Linked DNA regions of Homo sapiens: all the other regions are linked to region 1. Evidence: fine-mapped expression QTL. A gene starts in region 1. Each other region holds a variant in brackets. All regions are shown on one strand. Distances are between the middles of the regions.

Region 1 (2,765 bases):
GGAGAAGAGAATTTCAGTAGTTAGTATTTTCAGTTCTGGACCTGGACCTAAGGAAAAACACTGCCAAGTTAGTATATCAATACACACAAGTATCTCCTGAACTATTTTTTTGTTTGTTTGTTTTTGGAGGGAAAGGGAGCTTGGCAATTGCTTGTAGGTACTGATATTAAAATGTTGCAAATACATGGAGGTTCCTTGGTGCTCGCAAAATAACCATGACATGTAAAACAAGCAAAGAACTACCTAGTTTACTAAAGTCTTAAACCCTAACTCATAGATGTCCTAGTATAAAATAGCACTATGGATGCTAAAACCAATGTCTTAGAGTAGTCAAATACTAAAGATACACTTGTTGATACTATACTAAACTGTATTTTAAACCTTATTTTTAGGTCACGCATAGCACTAATAAAACAGTGAATAAGCACCATAAGAGCATGTCAAAATGTAGGAGGAAGGCCACAACTAAACTTCATAGTAAAACCTACCACCATGTGATTAAACACGACACCAAAAAGTTTTTAGCTAGTTTTCTATTTATATCCCTAGATATCTTTGGGATAGGGCCAAAGAAATGAGTTCATAGAAAGGTATAAAGGCCATTTTAAGTCCTGGTTTTGGGTGTGTCAATGTTTGTTGCAGCAGCAGAAGGAAGGCTGAAACAGAAAGTTGTGTCATAAATGGAACAAATACTGTTTAACAATTTTTTTTTGTCTTAAAAACAGCAAAACCCACCATCTTCCTGGAGTCTGCGTTGTTCTCTTCCAGAATAGATGTTGAGCTTTTAAACAAACCTGCAGTAGAAGCAAGCCCTCTCCAGGAAATCCCAATCTCTTTCCAAACAGGGACAGCAAAGGTTCTCTCTGTTGTGGCTGTTTTTCCCTCTCTTCTGGGAATTGGTTTGCCTTCTGAGAGCATCCCAGGAAGGGGAGGTGCGCCCCAAATTGGCGAGGCTCTGCCAAATACCAAAGGCTCTTCTTTGGAAGAAGACTCCTCCTTTGGACGTGAGGCGCCCCTACCAGAGCGCCCGCGTACAGAAACGGAAACCACTAGCTGCGCTGAAGTGAGTCAAGTGATGAAATCAAGACTACACGGGAAGGAAGCTCACGAAACCTAACTGGTGACAGAAGCTGCTGAACCCTGCCCGAAGAAACCACATGAGCCAGCAGTTGCTGCCCTCCCGAAGTGGTCCTCGGAGGCAGCGCACCCCTTCATTTTGGCGAACCGAGGAGGAAGGGAGGAACCGTGTGGGGGAAATCTAGAACTTCTGGTTCCCCAAGGACCCAGCAGACTGTGTTCTGGCTACAAGGTGATCACTGCCACCAGGTCAGTGCAGGATTCCTCCAATGTAGATGGGCCGGGAGCCACAACTTGCGCGGAGCAGCAGCCTCGCCGACCACTCAGAGAGAAGCCGCGCGACAGCCAGGCTTGGCCCGGACGGCGCCCCCACCCTGCGCGCGCGATCCAAGGTTCTCACCTGGAGCGCTCAGGTAGGGCTGGGGCGGGGCGGGAGGCTGGCGCGCAGGCGCGGAAGTGGGGCCTCGCCCCTGCCGACGTCGCAGGCTGGAGCTCACCTGGGAGACTCCAAGTGGAAGCCGAGCCTCGGTTCTGCCTCTCCAGGCAACGCGGGAGGCCCAGCGGGAAGGCAGGAGGCGGCGGCGGAGGAGGAGCTCTACTGAGCCGCAACTGTGGCGACAGCAACCGGAGTCGCAGCCGCCGCCACCTGCACCTGGCGCCTAGCCCACGTCCAGCGCCTGCCCGGCCGCCGCTTCCCGCCACCCTGCCCTGCCCACCCGCCAGGTAAGCCGGCGGCAGGCGGAGGGAGACGCGGTACCCCTGGGCTGCGTTAGAGCAGGCGGGAGGACGGCCGCAGGGGTTCACGTGTTGGGGACAGGGCTACGGTCCAGGTGGCCGGTTGGAGACGGTCTCGAGAGCAGTGTGTCGGTTGCCCCTGGAGAGATCCCGAAAGGGGCGCCCTGGGCCAAGGGGCAGGTGGCGCCTCGGGGGGGAGCCCGGTCACACCCTCTCGCCCACGGTGCCCCCGCCAGTCCCTATGGGGCGGCCCCTGAGGAGCTGGACGGAGACCAAAGACCTGGTGGCCCCGGACTTGCCCTTGGGAGGGTCGCAGCGTGGGGACCCTGAGAGGGAGGGCCCGGCGGGAGGCGGGCGCGCTTCCACTCCGGCTAGCAGGTTGCCTGTCTCCTCCAGCCTCTCTGCCCGAGAGGACATCCCGCGACAGCGAAAGACATGGCTTTGCCAGGCAACTTTCCTAGCCGGGGACCCCAAACAGTTCTAGGCTGCAAACCGCGGCCGCCGAGCCATTTAAATGGTTTCCGAGTGGTTTGGAAAGGGCTCTGTGGCCGGGACGCGGACACCCCTCTCTCTCTGTTTCGACTCTGCACTTTTCCGGGTGCGCTCTCCAGGCCAGAGTTGGGCCCACTTTCCTGATCAATGGAGAAGAGTTCTTTTCTTCCGTGGCGGGAAGAAATCCAACTGCCACGCACCAACCACTCACCATCTCGTTAGAGGACCTGTTGACTTAAGGACCTGCATATCGCGGCTATGGTTTGCCTGTGGCATATGACTCAAAGGTTCAAAAAAACATTGTTTCAGGATCCTGCCACGTCTAAGCTTGGGTGTGCCAGGCCCAGATTCCTTTCCCTGCCTAATTAGGCTTTTCTGAAGCCTAAGAATTGAGGGTGAAACTGGCGCTTACCTTAGACTTTTATTTCCTTCTCTTTCCAACTCATCAAAGAAACTATTTC
Region 2 (2,765 bases), 63 kb before region 1:
GCAATTCTCAAAGACCATGTTGATAAACAACAAGACCCTTGACCTTTATATTCCTTCTTTATGTGCTAGGTGGCCCTTATATTTACACATTTTTAAATTATTATATAAAAAGAGCCATTAACCATGGTCCCAGCTCATGTAAAAGATGGAGAGATGCTGGGAAGGTATCAAATCAGTTTGGCTCCAGTTAGCCCCAAGGATTTTTCATTAGGCCACGCTACTAAGTCTCTCTGACTTTAATCCCATTTTCTTGGGCTCACATATATCCTGGGGCATTGTGAGGTAAGAATAAGTCAGTCAGGAATCAAACAAAATTCAAAGAAATGGATAGGCATCATGATATGGTTTGGCTCTGTGTCCCCACCCAAATCTCATCTCAAATTATAATCCCCACATATCAAGGGAGGGACCTGTTGGGAGGTGATTGAATCATGGGGTGGTTTCTCCCAGGCTGTTCTTGTGATAGTGAGGGAGTTCTCACAATATCTGGTTGTTTGATAAGTGTCTGGCATTTCCCCTGCTTTCTTGCTGTCTCTCCTGCTGCCTTGTGAAGGAGGTAGCTTGCTTACCCTTTGCCTTCCACCATTATTGTAAATTTTGAAGGCCCCCTGGCCATGTAGAACTTTCAGTGAATTAAACCTCTTTTCACTATAAATTACCCAGTCTTTGGTATCTTTATAGCGATGTTATAACAGACTAATATTAATACATATCACTTCTTTAGGGAAGGCAGTAAACAAGATGCTAACTGATGGAGTGAAATCCCCAGGAGATGCAGAAGGCAAGTGCAGCTAACTGAGGCCTCAGGGGCAGGAGATGCCCATCAGGATGAGAGCTATGTCTTTCTCCAGTGATGACTCTGCTTCTATGAGGTCACCAGCAGTAGAACCATATCTTGCTGGCATACACTTGGGGTAAGAATATCATTGGCAAAGTTGCTTAAGATCCGATCTGCTTAACTATAACTACCTCCCCCTTCCCTGTTTCCTTCATCTTCCTACTCATATACACATGATACTTTCCTCTCCCTTTTTCTAGTTCATCCCCCTGGGAGAACCACTTTCTTGCCTAGAGTGAAACTCTACTCTCTTGTTTATGTTCAACATATTTTGTTGATGCTCCAAATTCTCTTGTTCTGGCTTCTCTCCAAGGCATTTTGTCCTTTTCCTTACAACTAATGTAAAAAAGAAGAAATATCCTTGAACTTCAAACTTTTTTATAATAAACCTTAGTGATCCATCAGACCCAAATGTCTAATCAACAAAAAGAATTTAAAAACATTAACTTTTGCTCAAATACAAGAAGAGCTTAAACTCCAGACTCTTCTAGCACAGCAAGGAAAGAGAAACAACAGTACAGCTAGTTCCATATTAAAAAAATAGGAATGTTCATCTCCTTCCATAATTCAAAAAATACTACCGGAGAATCAGAAAAGTAAAAATTGTGCTTGTATAAAGAGTTCCTGGATTGTACTGGCTTCCTATATCAATCATTTCTCTCCTGCTTTCCTGTAGATGGCCCCGCCTCCTGGACTTCCATCTGT[C/T]ATCAGGAGAACATAACCATCTGGAGTCAGTACAGATCATCAATCCTTCCACATATACAAGTTCATTTTAAATTTTTAAAAATATAATACAACTGAGAAGTCTTCATTAAATTGTTCTGGTGGTCCTACCTGTTTTCTGTTAGGGATCCAATACATCTCAGAGCCACATGGGTGATGCCATAATGCCAGGGCTGAAACACTGCTTTAGGGGTCTTTTACTTTCCTATTGCTGCTATAAAAAATTACCACAAACCTTGAGGCTTCAAACATCACAAATTTATTTTCTTACACTTCTGGAGGTCAGATGTTCAAAATGGGTCTTAGAGCTAAGACCAAGGGGCAACAGAGCTCCCTTCCTTCTGCAAGCTGTAGGGAAGGCTCTGTTCCTTGACTTTTCTGGCTTCTAAGGCCTGCCTGCATTCTTTGTCTCATGATCACATCACTGTGACCTCTACTTCTGTCATCATGTTTCCTTCTCTAACTTTCCTGCCTCCCTCTCTCCCTAATAAGGACCCTTGTGATTATATTTGGGCCTACATGGATAATGCAGCATATGCTCAAGATCCCTAACTTAATCACATCTGCAAAGTTCCTTTTGCCATGTAAGTTAACACATTCACAGGTTTTAGGGATTAGGATGTGGACATCTTCAGTGGGGATGCGGGCATTATTCTGCTGACTACAGGGTCTGATATAATCGGAGGCCCACTTCCTAGAAATCAGAGAACCTGATTTCTAGTCTGCAATTAGGAAATTCAATTAGGAGAGTGCATAGGGATTGCTGGTATCTCTGTTTTACCTTTGACTTATTAGACTGTAGCCACAAATTCTGGCCCCAGCCTATAGAATGTTATAATGAGAAGCACTGGCTTTAAAGTCATACTAACTTGACTGGGATTTGTTTTTTGTTTGTTTGTTTGTTTGTTTTAGACAGGGTCTTGCTCTGTCACCCAGGGTGGGGTGCAGTGGCGTGATCATGGCTCACTGCAGCCTCGACCTCCCAGGCTCAAGTGATCCCCATACCTCAGCCCCACAAGTAGCTGGGACTACAGGCGTGCACCCACCACACCCAGCTAATTTTTTTATTGCTTGAAGAGATAGAGTCTCACTATGTTGCCCAGGCTGATCTTGAACTCCTGGGCTCCAACAGTCCTCCCATCTCAGCCTCCCAGTTCTCGGATTACCCTCATGAGCCACTGTGCCTGGTCTCACCTGGGTTTTC
Region 3 (2,765 bases), 220 kb after region 1:
CCAATGAAAATATGCATCATCAAATAATCTCTTCTCTTAAAAATTAAGCAAATTTGTTTTTCTCTAAATATCAATGAATAATATTTATAAAATAAAAGGTTTTGTGCAATAATCTTTTTCATGTGTCAAAAGAAATATAACATGAAAAATTAAAAGCACACAACAAATAAATACAGATATGTGTTACTAAAGTATAAAATACATTGTTCTAATAGTGTTATTTACATTTCAAAATTTCCTTGTTTTTAAATTTTTTAATTCAAATAATTAAATATTCCAAACCTTCCTTTTGCAGTATACTAACACACATCAACAAATTTTGAATGATATATTATCTAATTTATAAGACATGTAAACTATTGCAATACAGATTGTTTTAACACTGGAAAAATAATTTTGAAGCTTTTTATGTGAACTATTTGTCAGTAGTATTCTCTTTTATATTATTTCTGCATACACAGGAGATTAAAAATTATTGGATGAATTTATTTCTTACCCATAAATTTTTAAAATAGACTAAATAACTTTTCAGTTTAATATAATGATATCAACATTTCTCTGTCACATCTGACTACATCGACAATTTAATCGCATTGGGTCAATTCAAGTGCATCCTTAATATTATACACTACAAATATCTTGCAAAGTTTTTGTTTAAGGCAAAACACACCAGCCCATTCTAATTTAAATCCAGTCAAACACAAGGAAGTGTTGGAGTAATTTATAAAATCACCAACCTGTTCAAATAACTGTAGTCTTAGTCCTTGCACTCTTTATTCATTAGGATCCAAAATAAATGATCATTTTATCATATGTGTCAGCATCACCGAAGACACAGTTCTTCCTGGTTCAGAGGAATCTTCTTAAATTTCCCAGCCCTGTGTTTTATTGCTTGTACCATATGCTTTATTGTTCAGCAACAAGAGCTTCACTCTGCACAAAGACTCATTACCTACTGCTTGCTGCACGGCATCAGCCTCACTGAGGCTGCCTATATGTGATCACATGGAGTTTTGTCTGAGAGAGCCAGGCGTGCCACTGACTTCACTGTGTCTATGGATATTTTTATCATCTGAGGTCTACTAGGAGGAAGGAATAACAGATAAGGAAGCTGCTCTAAGTCATTAATGCAGCACAACTTATGGAAATCCCTTCACAAGATTTTTTTT[TA/A]TTATAGAAAATGTTTGAGCAAGCTCCAAAAGAAGTTAACTAGATTTTATTTTAATAAGAGGTTGAATAATAATTTAAGGAAGGAGAACTTGCAAAAAGCCATTTCCTATCTCATATTTTCTGAAAGTACTTTTGTACAAATGTTATTAAAGAGCCTTGCGCTACTGAATGATTTGGCAATATGTTTTAACCATTAGATTGCTGGCATTTCTTTTTCTTGGTGTTTTGTTTTTTGTAAAAAGATAATTGCTGTTTCCTTCAAAATATCCTCAATTAAAATCTCAATCACTAAAAGATACTATATGTGAATAAAAATAGATATACTAATTACTTTTGATAAAGTAGATGAGAAGGTGAATCTTTTTTATTAATGTATATAGATGAAGTAGATGATTAATTTATCTTTTCAAAAGATGACACATTCCTAGAACAGCTGACTTAAAGGAACAATGCAGATTTCAATTTAAGTTCTAAAGGACATATGGTTTTTATTAATTTTTAAAATTGCGGTAACTTATTTTAGACAGCTTACCTCAATAAAACATATGATTTACCTTATCTGATTTCAATGTTAACAAGTAGTTTCAGGGAAAACTATCCAACATTTACAGGAATTTTCCACCACACAAATATTACATTAATATATATACAAATATGTGTGTGTATGTGTGTGTAGTCAGATTGCCTTTCTAAAAATTTTTTTAAATATATAAAATTATTTCTTAAAAACTGAAAATGGAATTTGGATTTCCAAATACAGAACTATTTAGTTATTGGAACTTATTTTAAAACATCGATTTCTTATCTCTTTAATGACTGTCTAAATTAAAATGATGTTTGAAAGCTTGTTACTTTTAAGTCTCAGTGAAAATCTTATGACAAATACATGCGAAGTGCAACAAAGAACACACACAGAAGGAAAAGTCAGAAGCACTATAAATACAGATGAGAAAATAAATTTTCTGAGTAGTTAGATATATAGTAACTTAACGGCACTTATAAATAATTCAGTAATTAAAAAGTGAATATACATATATATGTATATTTGCTTAAGCCTTCCATTAGTAAGAAATTCTTTTGGGGCAAAAAATATTATAACTCAAAATTTTTTGTGTGTCAATTGAAAGTTTTAAAAATAATTTAAAACCAGAATAGGTAAGTATGGTTAAGTAGCTTAGCTTTTAAATACAATGAGTTAATACCTTTCTTTATGATATTATTTGTAGGGTTAGCATTGATCTAGAATGTTTATGACTTAAATAAATGTTTATGACTTAAATAAATACCTTTTGATGGGTTTTTCTTAACATTGAAAGAAATATTCATATATGTTTTAGATACCACCATTTTAATGCATTTGTCCCAAAATGTTCATGTTCATTTTTAGCACAGCATTAGAGCTATGCTAAAGCTGCAAAACTTTGGGGCATTAAAAGAAAAGGGCTTATAGTATACTTCTGGGTTCTTAAGATATGTACATCCTAGTTAATATATTTGATCATGTCACCCATGCTAATGTACAAGGAAGTAAACAAAAGGCAGCCATTTTTTTTTTTTTTACTGCATTACTTCAAAAACATTGAAATAAAAAGGTT

Alleles and levels. Alleles are on the strand shown, and positions count from the first base shown. SD is a standard deviation of normalised expression in the study named. Not every link is listed here.
As copies of C replace T in region 2, the expression in subcutaneous fat of the gene that starts at base 1,568 in region 1 goes down (moderate effect, 0.58 SD a copy in GTEx).

What was found.
Region 2: its variant is fine-mapped to the expression of GALNT3 in subcutaneous fat (GTEx, PIP above 0.99). The same link has a PIP of 0.9 or more in cerebellar hemisphere, cerebellum, prefrontal cortex, sun-exposed skin and tibial nerve.
Region 3: its variant is fine-mapped to the expression of GALNT3 in whole blood (TOPMed, PIP 0.97).

Annotation. Positions count from the first base shown.
Region 1 is chr2:165,793,050-165,795,814 of GRCh38, reverse strand. GALNT3 (polypeptide N-acetylgalactosaminyltransferase 3) reads left to right here and starts at 1,568. Exons shown (of 11, transcript NM_004482.4): 1 at 1,568-1,800. It overlaps LOC124906086, which reads right to left and starts at 2,229. Exons shown (of 6, transcript XM_047446887.1): 1 at 2,023-2,229; 2 at 1,478-1,896; 3 at 736-1,015. The coding sequence starts at 2,229. RefSeq lists silencers at 1,626-1,775, 1,846-1,935 and enhancers at 1,006-1,911, 1,912-2,765.
Region 2 is chr2:165,856,364-165,859,128 of GRCh38, reverse strand. LOC100506124 (a long non-coding RNA gene) reads left to right here. Exons shown (of 4, transcript NR_045375.2): 3 at 725-914; 4 at 1,515-1,654. Among named protein-coding and RNA genes, the nearest start is that of GALNT3, 63 kb to the right of the region's middle. The variant C/T (reference allele first, on the strand shown) is at 1,544.
Region 3 is chr2:165,570,560-165,573,324 of GRCh38, reverse strand. All of the region lies in intron 3 of CSRNP3 (cysteine and serine rich nuclear protein 3), which reads right to left. Among named protein-coding and RNA genes, the nearest start is that of CSRNP3, 100 kb to the right of the region's middle. The variant TA/A (reference allele first, on the strand shown) is at 1,170.